Linked DNA regions of Homo sapiens. The protein of the gene in region 3 purifies or fractionates together with the protein of the main gene of each other region. This does not show direct contact. Each region holds a gene or a part of one and is shown on either strand. Other genes may lie near its edges. The genes, in order: UTP25, HAPLN3, CHST5, TPPP, SEC62, TOR3A and DPY19L1.

What was found.
Region 1: the proteins of CHST5 (region 3) and UTP25 purify together in Homo sapiens (affinity purification with mass spectrometry; one large-scale study listed by BioGRID and IntAct). This does not show direct contact.
Region 2: the proteins of CHST5 (region 3) and HAPLN3 purify together in Homo sapiens (affinity purification with mass spectrometry; one large-scale study listed by BioGRID and IntAct). This does not show direct contact.
Region 4: the proteins of CHST5 (region 3) and TPPP purify together in Homo sapiens (affinity purification with mass spectrometry; one large-scale study listed by BioGRID and IntAct). This does not show direct contact.
Region 5: the proteins of CHST5 (region 3) and SEC62 purify together in Homo sapiens (affinity purification with mass spectrometry; one large-scale study listed by BioGRID and IntAct). This does not show direct contact.
Region 6: the proteins of CHST5 (region 3) and TOR3A purify together in Homo sapiens (affinity purification with mass spectrometry; one large-scale study listed by BioGRID and IntAct). This does not show direct contact.
Region 7: the proteins of CHST5 (region 3) and DPY19L1 purify together in Homo sapiens (affinity purification with mass spectrometry; one large-scale study listed by BioGRID and IntAct). This does not show direct contact.

Annotation. Positions count from the first base shown.
Region 1 is NC_000001.11:209,837,972-209,841,471, reverse strand, and holds part of UTP25 (U3 small nucleolar RNA-associated protein 25 homolog), read right to left. Parts: intron 2,564-3,500; coding exon 2,344-2,563; intron 620-2,343; coding exon 417-619; intron 1-416. UniProt on the Homo sapiens protein: Component of the ribosomal small subunit processome for the biogenesis of ribosomes, functions in pre-ribosomal RNA (pre-rRNA) processing. Essential for embryonic development in part through the regulation of p53 pathway.
Region 2 is NC_000015.10:88,878,545-88,882,044, reverse strand, and holds part of HAPLN3 (hyaluronan and proteoglycan link protein 3 isoform 2 precursor), read left to right. Parts: intron 1-319; coding exon 320-688; intron 689-1,434; coding exon of another isoform or gene 1,435-1,502; exon of another isoform or gene 1,503-2,316; intron 2,317-2,576; coding exon of another isoform or gene 2,577-2,634; intron 2,635-2,775; coding exon 2,776-3,078; intron 3,079-3,500. UniProt on the Homo sapiens protein: May function in hyaluronic acid binding.
Region 3 is NC_000016.10:75,530,570-75,533,108, reverse strand, and holds part of CHST5 (carbohydrate sulfotransferase 5), read left to right. Parts: 5' UTR 1-20; intron 21-1,468; 5' UTR 1,469-2,539. UniProt on the Homo sapiens protein: Sulfotransferase that utilizes 3'-phospho-5'-adenylyl sulfate (PAPS) as sulfonate donor to catalyze the transfer of sulfate to position 6 of non-reducing N-acetylglucosamine (GlcNAc) residues and O-linked sugars of mucin-type acceptors.
Region 4 is NC_000005.10:690,553-694,810, forward strand, and holds the start of TPPP (tubulin polymerization-promoting protein), read right to left. Parts: upstream 2,801-4,258; 5' UTR 2,726-2,800; intron 2,192-2,725; exon of another isoform or gene 2,009-2,191; intron 1-2,008.
Region 5 is NC_000003.12:169,994,307-169,997,806, reverse strand, and holds part of SEC62 (translocation protein SEC62), read right to left. Parts: 3' UTR 1-3,500. UniProt on the Homo sapiens protein: Mediates post-translational transport of precursor polypeptides across endoplasmic reticulum (ER). Proposed to act as a targeting receptor for small presecretory proteins containing short and apolar signal peptides.
Region 6 is NC_000001.11:179,092,070-179,094,282, forward strand, and holds part of TOR3A (torsin-3A precursor), read left to right. Parts: intron 1-2,023; coding exon 2,024-2,148; intron 2,149-2,213.
Region 7 is NC_000007.14:34,936,486-34,939,985, forward strand, and holds part of DPY19L1 (protein C-mannosyl-transferase DPY19L1), read right to left. Parts: intron 2,891-3,500; coding exon 2,791-2,890; intron 1,635-2,790; coding exon 1,509-1,634; intron 1-1,508. UniProt on the Homo sapiens protein: C-mannosyltransferase that mediates the C-mannosylation tryptophan residues on target proteins.

The DNA.
Region 1 (3,500 bases), on a different chromosome or scaffold from region 3:
GGTATTCCCATCTTCACCAAAGACCAAACAAAACAGCATAAGCAAAAACCACATGTGGGATTATGTTAGGTAAAGATGTTCCTGGTGAGGACCCATCCATCCATCAACCTATCCCATCCACCCATCCACCCACCCTAAAGTTAGTAGAAAGAAATTTTAAGGGAAAGAAATCTTTTCTGGAGATTTGAAAATGACTGACAGGAATTTTAATCTGTAGACAGTTTAATTATGGACAATCTCTGGGTAGAAAAGGGGACAAAAGACTTTTTCAAATTAGAAAATGTGGAGTGTGTGTCCTTGCTTCCAAACAAGAGTTCTAATCTGGACTTAAATAATTCTTTAGGACTTAAACCACTGGGTGTCTTATCCCTCTAAATATGAATACTGTCCCACTGAATGTGAATGGCCAGCATTACCAGGACATGCTCCCAGTTCTGCATCAGGTAAATGTCAGCTTGATCAATGATGAGAAGCTCGATAGAAGACAGAAAGTCAAAATCTCTCTTCTTCTCTCCTTCTCCACCAATGATGGTCCTCAAGCCCAGGGGGGAAGCAATGAGGATATCCGAGGAGTAAAACGGGGCATAGAGTCGGATGCTTCTCTGAAGTATTGCCACTCCTACACAAAACAGCCAAGTACACACCAATTCATTAGTCACTACCAAGCCATTACCTTCCACCCTCTCAAAGCAGTCCACCACTTCTATTGCTTCCACATCTCTTTTGTTCCTCTTAGCATGTAACTGTGCTCAACTGCTTTAATTATTAAAACATAAGAACAAGAGAAATCTCTCCCTTGCATCTATAGTCCCTTCTAGCTTCTACCTTCTCTTCCTTTCCGTCACTATCAAACTGCTCCAGAGAATTCTCTCTACTTTCAAATCTCTCCTTCACTTCTCACTCCACTGCAATCCGGCCTCTGATTCTCAGGACTCCAGAGAAATGACTCTTGCTAAGGTCCCCACAGTCCTCAGTCACCAACAGGATGAACACTTTTGAGAGCTTCTTATGAGGAAAGTACAAACGGCACAGAATGTACTAACAGCTGCCTTGCAATGCTCTTTTCCTTGCTAATAGTTTCCATGACTTCAACTCTCACTTTTGCTTCTATCACTGACCTGGCCCTTGTCTGTCCTTCCAGATCCAAATAACTCTTCTGCAAACTGGTGGATTCACTTGTCAGCTCTGCTCTCGTGCTGCATAAAGCTTTGGGTTAACTGACTCACTGATCATGGCTTTAATGTCACCTTCACACAAATGTGTATTTCCAGCCCATATCTTTTTCCTGAGCTCCAGAACAATATACCAACTGCTTCCTGGACAGCTATATATGTTCCAAACAAAACACGAGCTCTTGTCTCCTTATGCCTTACATTCCACCATACCGAAGCCTGTGTGAATCATAGGTCATTCCAAGCTTAGTCACCCTGATGCCTCTGCAACAGGCAGTTTCCTGTCTGAAATGTTTTCCTCCACTCAGCCACCTCCCTTTGAAACTGGCTGAATCCTACACAGGTTTCCACCTAGTACAGATGACACCTCCACCACGACATCTTCCCTAACCACCCTGCCCCCATTTTGGGTAAGGGGGTTTGCTTTAAATGCTCCGAGAACAACCGTTGCACACATATCCTGCACTGCCTGCTCTGTCGTAGGCTGGATTTCCTTAGCAATGGGAACTATAACTTTTATTTCTATATTTATCTGTAGATTCCCAGCTTCTTAACAGTGCCTGGCACACTGTAGATACTCAATAAGTATTTGTGAATGAGCATATGTGACTAATGAACATTTCCCCAAGAACTTTACTCTATAAAAGGTATAACCAACCAAAGTCAATGGGAGCTGAATGAGAGACAAGCAAAAATGTGAAAATTTGGGTGGAAGTCATGTGTGGAGATTATTCAGGGTAGGCATCTATGTAGCACACAGGAGAAAGTCCACCTTTATGTAGAGACAGTCATTTTATTCAGCCTCCCCAGAATGACCCCATCAGCCCCATCACTTCCAACATCCTAGAGAACCCCTTGTAGCATCTATCTGCTACCAGCTATGGGTGTGCTTTCACACTTCTGTTATAAACTTGCTATAAATTTCTGTTATAAATGTACATGTGCCTTTCATATATGGCCTCAGAGATCCTCCCGACTCCACTGGCCTAATGTCCACCCCATTAGCCAAGGCAAGACTCTCCCATGGCAAACAACATGTCTCAAAGGCACACTGGTTCTGTTAAAGAGGCACAGTGAGTGATCCACTGGGAAAATATCTAATTCCAGCTTCTGGTCTCCAGCTATGTAGACCTTCACACTTTAGGTCTCAAAGTTGATAAGGAAGAATTACCAATCCTGAAGTGGTCATCAATATTGCCCACAAATACGGCTTCATAATCCTCAGGCCTCTTCAAGTTGGGTGGTCTCTCCTCGGGATCTGATCCATATTCTCCCTGAAACCTCTTTTTGTTGCTCACAATGATTTTCTTCTTGCTGTCACCCTCGAGGAGGCTGATGAAGAGCTGCACCACCCGCAAAGCAGCTTCCCGGAATGGCACCACTATCAGTACCTGTGCAGACAGCAACAGCAGCCTTAGTGGGGTAAGAGGAAGGAACAGGATCTTGAGGTGAAACTGCTGAGGAAGTGGAGCTAAAAAGCTCCATGTAGAGCAGTGGCCCCCAGCCAAGAAACATACCTATGTTACCCGCTTTGCGCAGGGCTTGGCTCAACACCAGAAACTGAGCACCTTTCATAACCCCAGCACCATGACCTGCGGACTTCAGACCCATCAGTCCACGTGAGACATTTCTCAAGCAGAATTTGGAAATACCTTTTACAATAAGCCAATGCCTCTAACAGATACGTCTACCAGTAAAAACTCAAGGACATAAACACATGAGCTCTTTGAGGGAAAGATTTCTGTGTCTCCCACAGAATTAGTGCAATATTTTTATCCTAAAGACACAGTGAATAAATACATGTCGAATAAATAAATGGAACAAGTAGAGAAGAAATAAAGCGGGTAAGAAAAAGGATTAACACATCATTACATTTCTAGTGCATTCTCTATACAGTGTTTCAGAAATGACAATAAAGCATTTCTAAAAAAAAATGACCACAATTAATGGGAAAAACAGGACTCAGCTTTCTAAGCATATTCAAAAATATTTAAAGTTACTGTTGAGAATAAAAACCGAAGATGCTTAAAAAATGGTTAATTTCTAATTTCCTATTGTAAACAATGGACATAACCCCAGTTAAATCACGTAATTCACCAAATTATAATATGTTTCATAGATAATCTGCCTCTTATTCTTCTATGTAATTCTAAATGGAAACAACCTTATAACCCTGATGTTCAAGCCCCAAGGAGTGCAGTGGACTCAGCTTGGTACAGTTGCAGAGATGGTGGACCAAGATTTAAGAGGACTGGGTTATTGTTCCAGCGGTGACAGTAAGCGTCGGGGCTTTGGTTTCCCCCGCTATTACACAAGGGAGTTTGACTA
Region 2 (3,500 bases), on a different chromosome or scaffold from region 3:
GAGTGGAAGCAGCAAGGCCCCCTGGGACCTATGCTCAGAGCAGGCATGATGGATAACAGTCACTTCCAAGGCATTCAGTTGGTCAAGCAAGTGGCAAGGCCAGCACAGATTCAAGGGGGTGGGGGAATAACTGTCATCTCTTGATGGAAGGAGATGCAAAGTCACATTGCAGAGCATGTGGATACAGGGAGGGGTGGAGCATGGTGGCCATTTTTGCAATCTGAGCCTGTAGGAGCCGTGGATGAGGGTGTGCGGTGGCCCTTGCAGGGGTACAGATGTGCTTCAGCAGGTCTCATCTGCACCCTGTCTCTCCCCCAAGACCTCCTTAATGGAGTGAAGCTGGTGGTGGAGACACCCGAGGAGACCCTGTTCACCTACCAAGGGGCCAGTGTGATCCTGCCCTGCCGCTACCGCTACGAGCCGGCCCTGGTCTCCCCGCGGCGTGTGCGTGTCAAATGGTGGAAGCTGTCGGAGAACGGGGCCCCAGAGAAGGACGTGCTGGTGGCCATCGGGCTGAGGCACCGCTCCTTTGGGGACTACCAAGGCCGCGTGCACCTGCGGCAGGACAAAGAGCATGACGTCTCGCTGGAGATCCAGGATCTGCGGCTGGAGGACTATGGGCGTTACCGCTGTGAGGTCATTGACGGGCTGGAGGATGAAAGCGGTCTGGTGGAGCTGGAGCTGCGGGGTGAGATGCTAACGGGGACTGGGTGACACTGGGACCTGAGAGCAGAGGGGAGAGGACCAGAGAAAACATCCAGACCTCTGTGCTTTAGACATTTAAAAGTACTTAATTCTCAAAACAACCCACATGGAAGCTACTGTTGTGACCCCCATTTTACAGGTGAGAAAACTGAGGCACAGAGAGGTCAAGTAACTTACCTAAGGTCACACAGCTTGTAAACGACAGAGCTGGGGTCTGAACCCAAGCACCCAGCCTCTAGAATCTGTTCCCCTCTACCCGCTGTAATTCACATCTCATTCAGAGAGAGGAAAACCAGAGCTGGTCCCACAGCTTATTAGAGACAGAGCTGAGATTTAAGCAAGGTTAGCGGGTAACACAAGCGAATGAGGCAGCCCACTGTGAGACGATGGGAGTGGTGGGGACTGGGCACACTCCTGAGCCCTTGTCCTGTGCCCAGGGAGCTCCCACACTACTCAGGCCCAGCTGATGATGCCACGCCAGAATGCAGACCCCACTGCCAAATTTTCTGGCTTGACAAGATAAGCTTATATTTTTATGTGAGATCTCCTGATTTTTATGTAAAAACCTCCTTTTTAAAAACAAAACAAAACAAAAAACAAACAAAAAGCCCCCCCAAAACCAAAAACAAAAACCCAGTGCTGTCCAAACCAGCCACACCCTGCAAGCCGGATCTTGTATGTGGGGTCCCTGTTTGATCTTTAATTTGTATTTACCTTCTCTGTCTCTAGGATGGGGCTGTGTGTCCTCACATCTCTCCCACATGTTAGGGAGGCAGTTCGGGGATAGAGGAAGGTGACCTGACTTTAGCCCCAGCCCGTCCCAGCTATGACATGTGGGTAAATGCCTCATCCCCCTTAGAGCCCTGGGCCTCTCAGGTGTAAAATGGGGTATCACAATCTTTCCTCCTTTACCTCCCTCAGAGGCAATGAGGATAAGATGTATGTCCTTAAAATGCGTTCTCTGTCTTTGCCACCAGTGTCCACATGGCTTACATGGTGGCTCAGAGGGGCCGCATTCCTCATTCTTGAAGTTGGGGTGGCAGTGGAGTTGGGGAGAACCTGCAAGAGTCATTGGTCTGGGGTCTGCAGGGGCAGCCTAGAGAAACAGGGAGCCCTCACCCCATTCCCGGGGCTTCAAGGGCTAGGAATTTGGGGTGGAACCAGGCATGAAATAGTCCCCCTGCAAACACACGTAGAGGCTGCAAGCTGACTGTCAGGGCCCATGGGCTTCTCTGCCGCCCAACCTGGCTTTGCCCAGGTGCCTGGCTTCCGGCCCTGGTGAGATCGGAGGTTTGGGGCTCAGGCTGTTCCTGGGTCCTTGGCCACACGGAGGAGATTCCAAAGTGTCCTTCCCAGACCCCTAGGGTCACCTCCACTCCCTAAGGTTTCATTGACTTGGTAGAGACTACATCTCAGAAGTTTAAAAACTTTTTATTAGAGTAAAATTTCAAACACGAACATATCTTTTCAGGGCCTGTGGCCTCTATCAGACCCTGACCACAAGGAGAGAAACCGCCTGCCCCAGACCTCCCTGCCCTTGAGCCTCCTTTATGGAAGGCCCTTCCCCAACCCTCTCCCCACGGCCTCTAGGGCCTCTCCTTCTCCTGAAAATCATCTGCCACACGTGGAAAGTTCCTTGCATTTTCCTAGGAAATTTCCACATTCATAATAACGTAGACGATCGGGTCCCAGCTAACGAGTGGGGAGCTGGGAGTCAAACCTGGCCCCTAGAGCCCAAAGCCCGGGCCTGTCTGGAGAAGATGGCACAGCCTCACTGGGGGTCTGGCGACAGCCTTGCGGATTAGGTTGGGGACATTGTTGGGGACATTAATGGACTAATTAATTACCTTAACTCATGGATGTTTTCTGAGTACTGCTGTGAACCAGCTGAGTCCCAGGAGAGAGGCGGCAACGGACAGGAGGTCAGAGGTTTGCTGAGTTTTTCTGAGGGATGGTGTATGTGTGTGTGTTGCAGGCAGCACATGTCCCAGTGAAGGTGGGAGGAGAGCGGGGTGTCCAGCCAGCTGGGCCCCTGGCCACCCCCTAAGCTCCTCTTTCCTTCCCCTGCAGGTGTGGTCTTTCCTTACCAGTCCCCCAACGGGCGCTACCAGTTCAACTTCCACGAGGGCCAGCAGGTCTGTGCAGAGCAGGCTGCGGTGGTGGCCTCCTTTGAGCAGCTCTTCCGGGCCTGGGAGGAGGGCCTGGACTGGTGCAACGCGGGCTGGCTGCAGGATGCCACGGTGCAGTACCCCATCATGTTGCCCCGGCAGCCCTGCGGTGGCCCGGGCCTGGCACCTGGCGTGCGAAGCTACGGCCCCCGCCACCGCCGCCTGCACCGCTATGATGTATTCTGCTTCGCTACTGCCCTCAAGGGTGAGTGGAATAGCCAAGCGCGGGCCTGTGGGTTTGGTGGCCACCTGGGACCTGTGAGAGGGCAGCTTCTGGGGAGCTCTGGCCCCCTCTGCTGGCTCTGCTGGTACTGCCACCTGGAGGCCAAGAGCACCAGCCACCCTAGAAGCAGCATCTGGTTGAGTTTTGAGTGCTTTGCTGCTGCTGCGTTATGCAGGGCATAAATCATTGGTTTCTTCATTCATCAAATGTTTACTGAGTGCCTACCATATGCTGGGGCCTAGACTAGGCTCTCGGGAATCACAGACGAATAAAACACAGCCTGTCTTCACAAAGCAGCTCATTTCGTAGGAAGATGAACAAGTAAAAACAGAAACTGGTTCAGTGTCATATGCCAAGCCCTTGGAAAAGTGTCTGACACATAGTAGGTGTTCAGTAAATGACCG
Region 3 (2,539 bases):
CTGGCTTTCCTGGAACACAGGTAACAAACACCTTAGCTTGGGATCAAGATCCTCCCTACCCAGGGAAGGGCTGGGCTGGCCAGGACAACTGTGTTTGGGCCAGAGCAGCAGGGTCCTGCACTCTGCAGGGGGCAATCACAGGTGGGAGAGGCCCACAGCCTGGGATCAGAAGTGCCAGGAGCTTCGGAACAGGAGTCCTGGAGTCCCAGCTTTCTTGCTGTCTCTCTAAGCCTTGAGTCTTTCACCTGAAAAATTGACATCATCATGCCCACCTCAGGGCCCAGAGTTAAGTTATCCAGTGGACTCGAAGCACCTAGCACTTGTGATCATTGAAGTCAGCAAATATGAGTTCCCTTCCTTTCTGGCACTCTGTTGGCAAGGGAGCTCACCATCCATCAGCCAGCACTGGAAAAAGTACAGTTGCACTTGTAGCGGAGGTGGGGGGCTACTCTCCTCATCTTCCAGGTTTTCCAGGAGTGGGTGTGGGGATCCAGAAGGCAGCTCGGGAGTCAGCAGGTGACAGAGGTGTTGGGCATCCTCCGCTCACTCCTGTCCCCGCATTGAGGCGAAGGAGCAGAGGTGAGATCTGCTCACAAGTTAGACCCTGGCTTCTCTCAGTGGGCAGTGTGGACAGGGGAAGGGGGCAGGCAAGGAGCAAAGGATGCAGGAGCAAGGAGAAAACTTCCAGGCTCCTCCCTTCCAAAGTCACCCAGCCTTGAGATCATTGCAGATGCAACAGGTGCAAACAGAAGAACACTTTAGGACCTTGGAATGCGGGAGGCTGGCTCAGTGTTCCTTCCACCCTGTGAGAAATGCGTGACATTCTTAAGGTCCACTAAAGGCTCAGGGTGGTTGGACGCCAGAGGATGGCCTGGGAGATACAGGGATTGGAAGGGTAGGTGGCCTGTGGGTGTCTCCTCTGTGGGGAGACTCACCAGGTGGAGGGGGTTCTTTCTCTCCAGATGTAGCTCAGCACAGGGACAGTAACAGTAACAGGGGCATGTGTGTAAGGAATGCTTCCCCAGGCCCTCCCCTCATAGGTGTTTGCAGCAGCATCCATCACAACAGCTCTAAGAGGTTAAATATTGCAAATCCCATTCTACAGAGGTGCAAATTGAGCCTCAGAGAAGTTAAGTCACTTGCCCCAGGTCTCATAGCTCCCCATTGGCAGTGCTGGGATTTGGAGCCAGCTCTCTCGCTTCCATCCATCAGGAGACCCCGCCAGTTCCCAGCCATTTGGAGAAATGCCCTACTCAGACTTATTCAACCTCAGCAAGCCTGGTGGTGGTGTGACATCCGCCTAAACCGTCATCAAGCCCTTTAGCTCCACAACCCAAAAGGGTCTCTCTACGAGTTATCCTGAAGCAAAAGGCAGGCAGGACAGCTCTGTTCCCACCCTGGGGAGCTTTCTATGTACAGGGCTGTCTCTCTGTAGGGCTCTGATCTCCTCTCCTTCCTGCTTTGCCAGATGTCGAGACATCTCCCATGGATTTGTGATCAGCGTTGCAGCTCTCCCAGCAGCCCTGGACGGTGGTGAGTCCCCTCAGCTGGCCAGGACAGTACTCTGCTCTCACCTCTCTGCTTCTTGGGCTCCATCCCAGCTCCCCATCAACTGATCTTCTTGCAAACCCACAGGGCTCCAGGACACCCTCCTTCTGGAGCCCATGCTGCCTACAGCACTTCACTCCCCACCAGTGATGACAACAGTTGCTGTTCTTTGTCCACTTTATTTACTTGTTTATCTTTAATGACAAAAGTTTTTTTTTTGTTGTTTTTTTTTTTTTTTTTGAAACGGAGTCTCACTCTTCACTCAGGCTGCAGTGCAGTGGCGCAATCTCAGCTCACTGCCACCTCTGCCTCCCAGGTTCACGCCATTCTCCTGCCTCAGCCTCCCGAGTAGCTGGGACTACAGGCGCCCACCATCACGCCTGGCTAATTTTTTGTATTTTTAGTAGAGATGGGGTCTCACTGTGTTAGCCAGGATGGTCTCGATCTCCTGACCTCGTGATCCGCCCGCCTCGGCCTCCCATAATGCTGGGATTACAGGCGTGAGCCACCGCGCCTGGCTGACAAAAGTTTTATACCTGCCTGTTAAAAAAATTATATAATACAGAAGCACACCTTGTAAAAGGTGCAATCCTCAGTTATGGGCATGACTGCGTGTTCCCTTCCCCCATCTTCATTATAATAACCCCCCAATCCCCCCAGATCCTGTGAGCCAGGTACCGGAATTATCCCTCTTTCACACACGGGTAAAGTGATCCGTCACAGAGAGATTTAAGTGATCTTCATAAGCAAGATCATAGGCTAGGAAGTGGCAGAGCCAGGATTCAACCTCGGCGAGCCTGGTGGTGCTCTGACATCCACCGAAGCCCCCATCAAGCCCTTTTAGCTCCACAACCTAAAAGGGTCTCTCTAAGAGGTATCCTGAAGCAAAAGACAGGAGTTCTCTTTGAAACATAGTATTTCTCTCTACAGATAGATAGCCTGTAGGTATGTAAGTAGGTGGGTGGGTGGGTAGGTAGACAGTTTGATGATA
Region 4 (4,258 bases), on a different chromosome or scaffold from region 3:
GGGGTGGCTCCCACAGGCCTGGGAGGGAACAGACTGCCTGACTCTCCAGAGAGCTCCCCAGTCTCCATCTGCGATGGGTGATCCTAATTTTCTTCAGGAAGTTCTCCTGAGCCCTGCGTGTGGCGCTTTGGCCTTTGTGCCCACGGAAGCCCCCTGCGGCCCCTCCCTCCGGGCCCTGCCCAGCCCGGTGCACGAACCCTGTTTACCGATTCCCAGGCCTAGGGCAGCCACTGCCAGTGTGAGGCTTGCAAATTAGGGTAGGGGGTCAAAAGGAAGCCCCTGTTGACCATTTCTGTGAGCATTCTATGCTCATTTCCACAACGAGCATTTATAACCTCGTATAATCGCTAAAACATTTATTGCAACTTCAGGGAATTCGGGAAGATAGACCAACCGCAGCTGTAAGATTAAAACGCAGCCAGTGACCAGCGGAGCTTCCTCCACGCACACGCGGTCCAATCCCCATGACTTCATGTTTTGTGAAGATGCAAAGCGAGTTCATGCCGGCGCCTTTCTGAATCAGAGATCCGTTTAGAAACCATGAAAGCTGCAGACCCCTCCCGGGAAAACGCACACACCCTCCTGGAGCTCGCCTTCTGCAGCCGCTCCGGGAGCCCGCCCCTCCCCCACAGGCCCTCCGAGGATCACGTGGTGGGGAGGCGCTGGCACCGAGCGGCTGACAGGCGCGAGAGCCCAGTTCAAGGCGGCGGCATCAGGCTGCAGCTGCCTCACTCCCCTCCACTTCCTGCCCCTTCCCGGCCTTGGTCCAGCCCCATCTCCTAGTCCCAGGCCACAGGGAGCTGGGTCACCTCCCAGGGGCAGGGGCTGGCTGGGCGTGGGGGGAGACCTCTCCCCCTGAGAAGTCAGGCGGGGAGGGGTGGCCGGGGTGGGCGGAGGGGCCCAGTCCTCTATCGGTCCCCCAGGGGCCCTGCAAGCAGAAGAGCCAATAAACATGCCAGGTGGATCAGCGGTGACACTGAGAGGGAACGCAACACCCCATCAAAACAGCAGCCCCCCAACCCCCATCAAAACAATAGCCCCCAACCCCCATCAAAACAGCAGCCCCCAAACCCCATCAAAACAGCAGCCCCCAACCCCCATCAAAACAGCAGCCCCCAAATACCCATCAAAACAGCAGCCCCCCAAACCCCATCAAAACAATAGCCCCCAACCCCCATCAAAACAGCAGCCCCCAACCCCCATCAAAACAGCAGCCCCCAAATACCCATCAAAACAGCCCCCAACCCTCATCAAAACAGCAGCCCTCAACCCCCATCAAAACAGCAGCCCTCAACCCCCATCAAAACAGCAGCCCCCTAAACCCCCATCAAAACAGCAGCCCCCCAAACCCCCATCAAGACAACAGCCCCCCCAACCCGTATCAAAACAGCAGCCCCCAACCCCTCATCAAAACAGCAGCCCCCAGACCCCATCAAAACAGCAGCCCCCCAACCCCTATCAAAACAGCAGCCTCCCAACCCCTATCAAAACAGCAGCCCCCAACCCCCTATCAAAACAGCAGCCCCCCTAAGCCCCCATCAAGACAGCAGCCTCCCAACCCCACATCAAAACAGCAGCCCCCCAGACCCCATCAAAACAGCAGCCCCCAACCACCTATCAAAACAGCAGCCCCCAACCCCTATCAAAACAGCAGCCCCCCAACCCCCTATCAAAACAGTAGCCTCCCAACCACCTATCAAAACAGCAGCCTCCCAACCCCCTATCAAAACAGCAGCCCCCAAACCCCTATCAAAACTGCAGCTCCCAACCCCCTATCAAAACAGCAGTCCCCCAACCCTATCAAAACAGCAGCCCTCCAACCCCCTATCAAAACAGCAGCCCCCCAAACCCCTATCAAAACAGCAGCCCCCAACCCCGTATCAAAATAGCAGCCTCCCAACCCCTATCAAAACAGCAGCCCCCCAAACCCCCATCAAGACAACAGCCCCCCCAAAACCCTTATCAAAACAGCAGCCCCGCCACTGCCCGGGAGGGACAGGCTTCTCACCTCCCTCGGCTCCGTTTACGTAACCGAAACCGCAGAATAAAGGGCTCCTCAGATCTTCGGGCGCTGCTCCCAGGGGTGCGGGAAGGTGTCCCGGCAGCGCCTCTCCATCGCCACAGGCCCGCGGACAGTAGCCAAGACCCGGGGCAGCTGGAGGCTCTGCGGGGGGCGGTCTGACAGCCCCACCTGCCAGGACGCGGTGGTGTCAGGACCCTGAGATGGGCCGTTTCTGTGGCCAGGGATCTCTCAAAACCTGCTGCGGGCAGTGACTTCATTCCAGCCCTCCACGCCCTAATTTCCCACGCCTCACACCGGCGGCCCCCTAGGCCTGGGAATAGGGAAACGGTTCGAGTCCCGAGCTGGGGAGGGTCTGGAGGGAAGGGCTGCAGGGGCGTCCGTGGCCGCGAAGAAAGGCCAAAGCGCCAGGCACAGGGCCCGGAGACGGTGACAGACCTGTCCCTGGCGCGGCCGACGGTGACCCCCGCTCGCGGCCTTTGCAAAGCCTCCCCGTCGCGTCCTCGCACCGAGCCCGCAGCGCCGAACTCCGGGCATCCCAATCCGGGGGCTCAGGGACGCGCGGGGCGGTCCGGGAAGGGGGCTCGGGGGAGCGCGGGGGGCAGGGGCTGCGGCGCAGGTGGCTGCTGGGGCTGACGGGCCCAGTCTCCGCCCCCGGGTGCCCCCCGCGCCGCGCCCGCGGGACCGAGCCCCGCGCCCGCTTACCTTGGAGACGCAGCGACTGCAGCGGAGGCGCCTCCGCGACTCGGCCGCGCGCGACCCGGTGCTCAGCGGAGCTCTCCAGCCGCCGCCCCGCGCCCGCCCGTCCCGCCCAGCACCGCCCAGCCCCGCCCAGCCCGGTCCCGGGCCCGCCCCCGGCCCCCAGCGTCCGGCGCCCGCCCAGCGTCCCGCCCCGCGCGCTCATTGGCAGCCCCGCCCCCGCCGCCCCACCCGGCCCGGGGACGCGCGGGCGCACCGAGACCTCTGCCTTACAAGGCCGACTCTGCTCAGGCCCCGCGGACCGCCGGGTATCCGCTCAGCGCAGGGCGCGGCCGACCCGCGGGTCGTGGGAACCGCTGGGCAGGGGGCGGCGGGGCCCCTCACCTGGCTCTGGGGCCCCCCGGGGACGACCGGACCCCGATCTCTCCGCCCCGCAGGACGCGCGTTGACGGTGCGGCGGGGGATGGATGAGCGCGGCCGCGGCCTCCTGGGGTGGGGTGGGTTGGCGGCGGGGCCTCGAGGACGGTGCGGGGCGAGCCCCGACCGCGCCCAGTTCTTTAAGGAGCCGCAGACGGTGCAGGGAAGCGGCAGGGCCGGGCTGTGAGGGTGCTCGGACCCCAAGGCGGGGCGCACCCAGGGGACTGGGCTTCCAGGTGGGGGCAGCGCGGCCGGGGATCGACCTGAGCAGGGAGACGGGTCCGTGCCGGGCGCCCAGCGCAGCTGCTCGGGAGTGGGCCGCCCTTCACGCAGGAGTGGAGGAGCGGAGCGCGCACCCCTGACCCCGGCCTCAGCTTCCGTTCTCCCTGCAGGTCGCCCGTATGCAGCGCCACCATCCCGGCCGCTCTTCCAATCTCGCCTTTCTCCGGGCACCTGCCGCCCCTCCCCCGCTCCCCAGACAGGCTTTGCGGAGGGGGCTCATTCCGCCCGGGGCTGCCCGGCCCTCCGCAGGAGTTGGCTCCCCACAAGGTTCCGGGGCCGAGATGACAGGGCGGTTCTGTGGTGCTGGGTGCTGGGACTTGAGGGGCATAGGGGCACCTGCCCTGGAGGAGGCCGAGGCGCAGCCCCCCAGGAGGAAGGGGTGCCTCTGGTGACTTTCAGCTGGACTCTTCCAGCTGGACTCTAGTGCAGCTGAGCTCCTCCCCCAGCCCCGGCTCTGTCCCTGCACCAGGTGTCCAGCAGGCCCTGGAATCCGCAAAGGCAGAAGGGGAAGTTGGGGTGCTGGGTGCTGGGCAGGGGGTGCTGAGGCCTCACAGCCCGGCGGCTTGGCCCCCACCCACCCCACGGTGGTCCCGCGCCCCACACTTCCTCTCCTCTCCTGTGGTTTCTCCTTCCACTCAGTGCTGCCCAGAGATGGGCTTCTGTCTAGTTCTCCTGAGAAATTCCACACTCGCAGCTGGGAAGTCGGGGGACCCCCGAAGCTGTGCGGCGGCCACGCTGCGGCTCCTGCTTCCCTCCTGCTCGGGTGCGGGCTCGGCTGCCTTCTCGTCCCGCGGAGCCCGGAGTGCCTCCCCCTCGGGTAGATCCTACTAACAGCATCAA
Region 5 (3,500 bases), on a different chromosome or scaffold from region 3:
CCCATGCATTTCCTTTTCTGCATTTAAAAACATTATTCTGGCCAGGCATGGTGGCTCATGCCTGTAATCCCAGCACTTTGGGAGGCCGAGGCAGGTGGATCACCTGATGTCAGGAGTTCAAGATCAGTCTCGCCAACACGGTGAAACCCTGTCTCTACTAAAAAATACAAAAATTAGCTGGGTGTGGTGGCATGTGCCTGTAATCCCAGCTACTTGGGAGGCTGAGGCAGGAGGATCACTTGAACCTCAGGAGGCGGAGGTTGCAGTGAGCTGAGATTTCGCCACTGCACTCCAGCCTGGGTGACAGAGTGAGACTCCATCTCAAACAAACAAACAAACAAAAAAAACCCATTATTCTGAGGAGTCCATGACACAAAAAAGTTAAAGTGATCTAGGAAATCATTGAAAATGAAATAAGACCAAAGTGTGATGATATGACCCCCTTGAAATTTAACTTATCTTTCCCTCTTTCTGTCATGCTAAGAAGAGATCATAGGCCTTTTGGACAATCCTAAAACTATAAACCTCAGAAAATATGTCCTCTCTCAGACTGAAATTTCGTCTGATTGGAAAAGCCATGCAATTAAAGTATCAAAGGATCTCTGTGCTAGGTTGGACAAATGAAATAAACGCATTGGGACCTACTCAGAAACTCACAACTAACTGCTTTAGCCATTGGTTTAAGGGCTTGCCAAAGAAGGCAAATTTAAATTAATCTCCTTGTGTAGTTATCTGCATGACATTCACTAGAACAGGATTTTAGTTATCAAAATGCTTACAACATGCTGTATAAAGTTATGAGATCTTTTCTAATGTTTGGTGATAAGGATCTGACAAAGAGGTCAATTCCTCATTGGAATTTTTGTTCCCTAGGAATTTCTCCTTGGTATTGGTCTTGATTCCAATAAGAAACAGATGGTTCTTTACATGAAGATATTATGAGGAGATAAGTATAGGTATAGGCTACCCAAAGAGGAAGCACAGTAGCTTCTGCAACTCCAGGCTAGTAGCAGCAGAACTGACATCATCCTTGGCCAGAAAGGAAGAGTGCAGGGACTGGCAACCTGGAAAGCAGGGAAGGAGTTTGGGAGAAGTGACCTTTGGCTGCTAAGGCAGCCCCCCAACCCCAGGAGAAGAGCCGAGAATAGGCACCCTACCATCCTCTGATCTCTGGCCAGGACACTCCTTGGCCAAACCCACTCAGAAGCCAGGAGGCATAGGAGCCCACTGCTGTGGTCCATTCGGGTCAGCTTTGTGGGCAAGAGCAGAGTGGAGCTGGAGGGGAAAACAAGAGATATCCAGCACATGTAGCAATTTGCTGCCGTAGCACTTAACACACTATTTAATGGTGCAAGAGAATTGTATTTTTATTCATGGTTGTGCCTAGTAAAATTCTGGTACATGGTAAGTGCTCAGTATTACTGAGTGAATGAGCAAAGACCTGAAATACTGTGGAAACAGTAAAAGCAAATTACCACACAATTAGGAGGAATTATTTTCAGACATAGGATATTTAAAACATCACTCAAATACTGGAGCATGATTCAGCAATAAATTCTATTCCATAAACCAGGTAGATAAATGTCACAGCTTTAAAATATAGTTAAGTACAGTTGATCCTCGTTATTCATGGATTCCGTATTTGTGAATTTGCCTAACCTAAAATTTTGTGGTACAGCAAAAAACTTGCTGTACACATATTCTGAGCTGAGGTTGAACAAGGCCATGTTCCAGCTTTCATACTATAAACGTGTCCTTTTTACGCTAATGCCATGGTTTTTGCATTTCTGTTCTTTTTTTGATTTCACTGTTTAAAATGGCCCCCAAGCATAGTGCTAAGGGCAAAAAGCTGTTCCTAAGGGTAAAAAGGCTGTTGTGTGCCTTATGAAGCTTATGTGTCAGATAAGCTTCATTCAGGCATGAGTTACAGTGTTGTTGGTCATGACTTCAATGTTAATGAATCGATTATATTAAATAAGGTGTCTTTACAACAGAAATTTACATGTTGACTGCTTGATGAAAATGTGACCAGTGGCTTGCAGAAATCTAGCCTTGTATTTCCCCTAGGTTCTATATTTGCTAATTCAGTGTTCGCAGTGACTTTATAGAACGTAACTACCTTGAATAATGAGAATCAACCATACTTGCTGTTTTCCAGTTCCTAATAGATTTAAAAAAAAAATTCAATTTACAAAAGACACAAGATGACTTTTCTTGTCAGCAGCTAACTGATCCTCATGATGTAAAACCAGAAAGAGGGGGGAAACACCAAAATTCATCACCACTGCATAATTTCAATGTGATATATTAAAATTTATTACTTCCTGAATAGTATTCAACTAAATCTATATTATTTCAATTAAAGTTACCTAGGCCATATGGTTTGAAAATTGAAAAATCCAGTAAGAGGGAAAAGGAAAAATACCTTATTTAATACATTGACTTTAAGAACAATCACATATGCATTATTCTTACTATCTGAACTTAGCCTCTGGTAAATTCAATCCTGCTTAGTTAGGCCAATTGATACCCTCTACAATAAGCCCTACATGATCAAAAAGCTTCATGCTTTCTACTTACAGCAGCATAGCAAATCTGAAGTTCTTAAAAAAAAATCGCCATTCTATTAACAATTATAAACGATTTTCCATGCTCTGGTACAAGAATATTTAATGTTAGCCAAGAAAGATAGCCATCTATTCCACTGAGGATTGTAATAGAGGCAGCCTTTTGATTTTTATATTTGTTTAAAGTACACAACTTGAATAGTAAAATAGAAACTGAGCTGAAATTTCTAATTCACTTTCTAACCATAGTAAGAATGATATTTCCCCCCAGGGATCACCAAATATTTATAAAAATTTGTACTAACATTCTGTAAGAATCCACACACATCAGTAAGAAGCTGACCTTCCTGTTGGCCATGCTCCAAATGTCTTTAAGACTAGACAAATTACATATATTATAAAAAATTTCAGGATGAATATTGAGTGCCTGGGTATTATCACAGTAATAGTAAAGGTTAATGAAATAATTTTTATTTCTGAAAAACACCATGTTTATACCCCAAAATAGGTATCAATGTTACTGGTGATAAACTCAGAAGTGATCATTATATATATGCTTACTGTGGAAATGAAGTAGTAGAGCTCTGCAAATGGGACGGGAAAATACCCAGGCACTTCATCAATGAACATTTATTTGCTAAAAAGAAACTATTAAAGTGATTGCAGCCTTGACATAGTTGCATTAACATCAAATAGCCACATTTATGTCCACTTACAGGGACTACTATAAAGAAGCAATCAAGCCAAGTTTAATAAAATGTGTCGATACAGAAAACATATTTTTCACAATTAGAAAAATTTAACATCTTTAATTCAAACACTTAGATGAGAAACAGCCTAAAGCAAAGACTGACATACACTACCTATTTCAACCACAAAGCAAGATGCTCTCACTGTGACTGAAGAAAAATCATTTAATATTCATTATTAGTT
Region 6 (2,213 bases), on a different chromosome or scaffold from region 3:
AGACACATTAGCACCTCCCCCTACAATGAGGCACCTAGCTAGACAACTTGGCTGTCCGGGCTTAACCTGCGTGGCAGGGAAGGACGCCTGCCCAGCCTTAGCCTCTACGCAATGGTGGAGGCAGGGAGGGAGAGAACCACACAGCTCCCCTCATTTCCCAGCAGCCCCCATGGAGCCTAGTCAACAGGGTGTGGTCACAGGCTAAATGAGCAAAGATGTGAGCTAATATACTGGTAGGTGTCATGGGGGCTTTCAGAGCTGGGTAAGGAGGGAAAGAGATGGAGATACTGGTTCCCCACTCCTTAACCTGCCACCTGCCTTCCCTGTCCTTTACCCTCCCTCATTCTGCTGGACCTGAGGAAAATGCAAGGGAGGCTAGGCCTAGTGGCTCATGCCTGTCATCCCAACACTTTGGGAGACTGAGGTGGGAGAATCACTTGAGCCTAGGAGTTTGAGACCAGCCTAGGGAACATAGTGAGACCTCGTCTCTACAAAAAAATTTTAAAAATAGGGCCGGGCACACCTGTCATCCTAGCACTTTGGGAGGCGGGCAGATCAGCTGAGGTCAGGAGTTTGAGACCAGCCTGGCCAACATGGTGAAACCCTGTCTCTACTAAAAAAATTAGCTGGGCATTGTGGCATGTGCCTGTAATCCCAGCTACTTGGGAGGCTGAGGCAGGAGAATCTCTTGAATCCGGGAGGCAGAGGCTGCTGTGAGCTGAGATCACGCCACTGCACTCCAGCCTGGGCAACAAGAGTGAAACTCTGTCTCAAGAAAAAAAAAAATAGCTGGGTAGGGTGGCATGTACCTGCAGTCTCAGCTACTTAGGAGGCTGAGGTGAGAGGATCAGCTGAGCCTGGGGAGGTGGAGGCTGCAGTGAGCCAAAATCACGCCACTGTACTCCAATCTGGGTGACAGAATGAGACTGTCTCCAAAAAGAGAGAAAGCACGGGGAAGTGCAAGTGCATTGATGTGGAGCTGGGCAAGGACTTGGTTTAAGGAGCTGGTGGAGCTGGCTGAGGCTGCAGCCCAGGGAGGGGAGGAGAGTGCAGTGAGGTGGGGGAGAAGTATGCCTGGGCCGTGGAGGGCGGAGGAAGGCCAAGTCTCCACTACCTCTGTCCCAGCTTCCCTGCTGGTGGCTCTACGGTTGCATCTTCTCTCCTTATCCCCTTTCTCCCTCCTATCTCTAACCCAAATCACTTTCTGTGCTTCAGACCCGTAATTCCAGTTGCCCAGTGATATCACAACCTGAGAGAGATCACAGGCAAGCAAAAAACACTCAAACGTGTGTAAAACCAAACTTTCATCTCCACCTTTCCGTGTTCCACCTCTGTTAAGGGGGACAGCAAGCAGCTTGAGGCTAACGCTTGTTCTTTGATGACCTCCTTTCACTTCTCACATCCATCAGTTACAGGGTTTTTCAATTGTGCCTCCATAACTAATTCTTAAATCCTCCTTTCCATCCCTTCTCCATGATCCATAAGCTCAAGTCCATGCAAATGGCAGACAAAGCCCTCCTCACCTTAGCCAGCCTTTCATGCCTGTGCTCCTCTGGCGCACCCAGGCCTAGACACTTCCCTTCCTTGCCAAGTGTCTGATGATCACTACTTGGTCTTTATTTGCTCAGAAGCCTCATCCTCCCTCTGAAGCCTTCTCCTTAGAACTCAGTCACTCCTCCATTAGCGCTTGCCACACTGTCCTGGAACCGAATACACGGATGCCCCTCAGACCACACAGAAGAACCATATCTTACCATCTTTTCATGCTCCCTGCACTTAGCACAGTCTCAGTAAGTGTGTGTCAAGAGGGAACAAGAGAGAATGGGTGGCAAAACTGGACAGTGTCTTTTCTGTGCAGACCTTTGGGTTGTGAGGTTGTGACAAGGTCTCCTGGAAGAGAGAGAAGGTCCACGCCCCTCAGCCTCTATTCTTCCAGGCACTAATGCATTGGTTTCAGCGGTGAGATAACATATATGGAAGCTAAATATAAACAAATGGGTTAACAAGCTCTTGTCTCTTTCAGTAATCTCAGGGGCGATATAATCAATGAGGTGGTCCTAAAGTTGCTCAAGGCTGGATGGTCCCGGGAAGAAATTACGATGGAACACCTGGAGCCCCACCTCCAGGCGGAGATTGTGGAGACCATAGGTGAGTAACTGACTCAATATGCCTCTGGTGAGAGCCACAGCTGGTGATAATTAATGTGTTTGTTG
Region 7 (3,500 bases), on a different chromosome or scaffold from region 3:
ATAAAGAAGATCCCCATTCTGGTAGAAAGCTATGCTAAGAACTGAGTTCTTCCTATTGCAAATGTCAGCCTATCATTCATTTCATATAATTTCCTAAGATCGTCATGAGATGCTTAGAACTTTTCTGTCCTAAATTTATATAACAATGTTAAAGGTGAGTATGTGAATTTCATATACATATTCACAAACGCTTAAAACATTTTCTGAATTATTACAAAATAACATTTTCTATAAATCCTGACTGAATTCAAACCACGTAGCACACGTTCATAGGAGAATCATTCTATAATCAACAATTATTTTAGTTTCCTTGTGAGCAAAGCTGTAGATACTATGTCACAGAACTATTTTTCACTCACGACTCAGTATTTAACAATGTTGTCTTAATACCATATGTGTCATTGAAATATATGGTGGGAAAGTGTGATCAAGCCACAAATATAGCAATCTCTTGAACGCTTTTGTTTAGTTACAGAATAGTAAGAATTTAAAAAATATTATTATTCCATAAAATAGTGTTTATTTCTGATAAAATTGTTCCTGTACTGTGCTCTTCATGAAGTGAATGTTTTGGTACTTTAAAAGCAGGCTACTGTCACCTGGTGTCCAGTCACTTACGTGCCACATTTCTAGATAGCTTTAGATTCACATCTGCTTTGAAGATCTTACTGTCACTTGGAGCTATACTCAGCTTAGTAAACATCTCTGTGGAAATAGAAACTTAAAAACTATAAACCCAAGAGAAAGTGGGTCACAGTAGAGTCATTTTCCCATTCAAGTAAGATGTGAAACACCAGGAAAGAAAAATTTCATTCTGAGTTTTTGCTGACAGGGTATCCCATCCATCGACAGGACATGGTGTAGCACAGAGACCCAGTAAGGATAATGTGACCCCTGGTGCTCAGCTGCCTGACTTCACCAAAAGAGACTCCCCATTACTTGGTTTCAGACCCTGGAAGTCTTTTGAAAGAAAATACATCCAACTTTAAATAAAAGTTTCTTTTAAAACATCAAAGGCAAATATGAACAATTTGGGAGATTATCAACTAGTGCCAATAAAATCTCTTTAAGGTAGTATACACATACAAATCATTATTTAAAAAAAAAAGATATTTATAAAGACTATAAAAGAAAGTCTCCAAATCATTATCTAAAAAGTTTTTTCAGGCCAGGCGTGGTGACTCACGCCTGTACTCCCAGCACTTTGGGAGGCCAAGGCAGGAGTAGCACTTGAGGCCAGGAGTTTGAGACCAGCCTGGTCAACACAGCAAAACCCCATCTCCACTAAAAATACAAAAATTAAGTGGAGCTTGCAGTGAGCCCAGATCATGCCAGTGCACTCCAGCCTGGGCAACAGAGTGAGAGCCTGTTTAAAAAAAAAAGAAGAAGTTTTTCCATGTATACTTTATGTTATATACACACCCCCGCCACCAGCAAAGCATGTGCCATGTGCTTGAATTAACCTTCATGTCTTATGATTATAAAATGTTAACTGTGTTGATACTCACTTGGATCTTCTTACACACCATGACTCTTCTAGAATGTAATAGTTCACTTTTAACTTTATCAGTTCTCGCTTCACTTCTTCGGCTGCTTTCCGACTATACATTGAGTATACTATTTTTGTTCTGGCTCTTTAAAGAAAAATAATTGGGCATAAAATTTTCAAGACTAAAACGATACAATAACACATTTGGAAGAAAGCACTGAATTAGACTAGAAGACGATGAAGAAGAATCCAGTCAGGAGGAAATTCCCCATGGAAGTTCCCGCTAAGGGGCATCAGTGAGGTCAAAAGCAGAAGGCAGGAGGAGGACAAGTTGTGGAGAAGAGGGTGACCTTTAACACACCCCTACATTCCCAAACTTGGTCTCTTTGTGTTTGTTCACTTATTTATTTGTCTTAAATTCTTCACTTCGCTATCACATGTAAGAGTAAGGTACCCTGTGTGTGAACAGGGATGAACTACAACAAACACAACTATAGGACTACTGTGAAGCTGCAACAGTCCCAACTTAGACATCAACAATAATTCACATTAAATGGTTCTTCATTTTATTTCTAGATTTAAGAAAAACTAAACTTATTTAACAAAATTGGTCTGGAAATTAGCTTGATGAGATTGATTTTTTAATGAAAAAGCTTATTTGTGAATGTACATGCCATTGTTATGAAAAAGAAGATGCTAATAAGATTCACCTAATCACTTAGAAAATGAATAGCTTCACCTGCCTTAGAAACTGCAAGAAAAATTAAATTTTTAAAAAAAAATTTGGACAACACATCTCTAAATTATTTTTTAAAGTCTCAAAAAAATCTAAAAAAACATAAAACACCCAAGATCATTCTAACAGGCTATACTGGTGAAAACCAGAATAAACTCCTCTTTGAATGGGATTCTATTTCAAATGACTTCTCCAAACTCAAGAAAAATCACCTATGAGAAAACCTTAATAAACACTCTAAGCTAAACTCCCCAGGGAGTTACAGGATGAAAAGGACTTGGACATTTTAGAGCCCTGTTAACCTGTGGGAAAGTGCTATAGTATGACTTCGTTTATATGCCTGGTAGAGAAGAGAGCCCCCAAAGTTGTCACTTTCCTGCCCTGTGAAGCTTTAACGGATTTGTTTAGAGCTTAGCGGTCTTATTTCAGCTTTCTGCTCCCTGACTCGATAAGCCTCAGTTCATCATATCCTTTTGAAACATTCCTTATTACTTTGCTGGTGTCCTCCACTCACTGTCTGTTTGCATGGGAGGTTTGTTTTGATGATGCAAGACTGTGCACTGACCTCAAGCCTGCGTCTTCATAATGTGGATGATTCACAATGGGCCGAAGTGCAGAGAGCTTAACACTTGCCATCGTGGGCATGGCACCCGCAAACACTGCATCTGGAAGGCAAGAGGAATGTCTCAGGAAGACACTCAGTGAAGGCGAGAAGGTGTCTCCTTCAAGTGTAAATCAATTATTTCACAGGTAACAGAGCGGAAGCCCAGCAGGTTCATGACTTCAAGATTCAATGGCAGAACTAGCATGAAGTCAGATGGCTGATAAAGTAGCAGTTGGCAGCCAGGCCTGGGTAAACTATTTTCCTTGGAAAACAGAGCTTCATCATCTCATCATTAAAGATTTCTTTCTTTCTTTAAAGAAAAAATCTTAGAAATCTTTCCTGAATCTAAAAAAGAAGTATCAAATGGACTAGGAAAGCTTTACAGTAACAAGGAGTTCTGGAAGATGATTTAGTATTCAATCATTTGATACTCAGATGACAACAAAGTCTCCCTTTCCACACATGAATAAAATGTCACATTCCATGAGTTTATTTCAAGAAGGAATGTGAAGGACTAATATTAAAAATTCATTAAGAAAATAAGCACAGGAAAAATTATTTTAAATGTGGCATTTATGACTGTGAATAAATTTTGAAAAAATTAAAATCTATAAAAAATGGCAGAATAAATTACTAAGAACATATGTATAACATTTCCCCTGCAAACCATT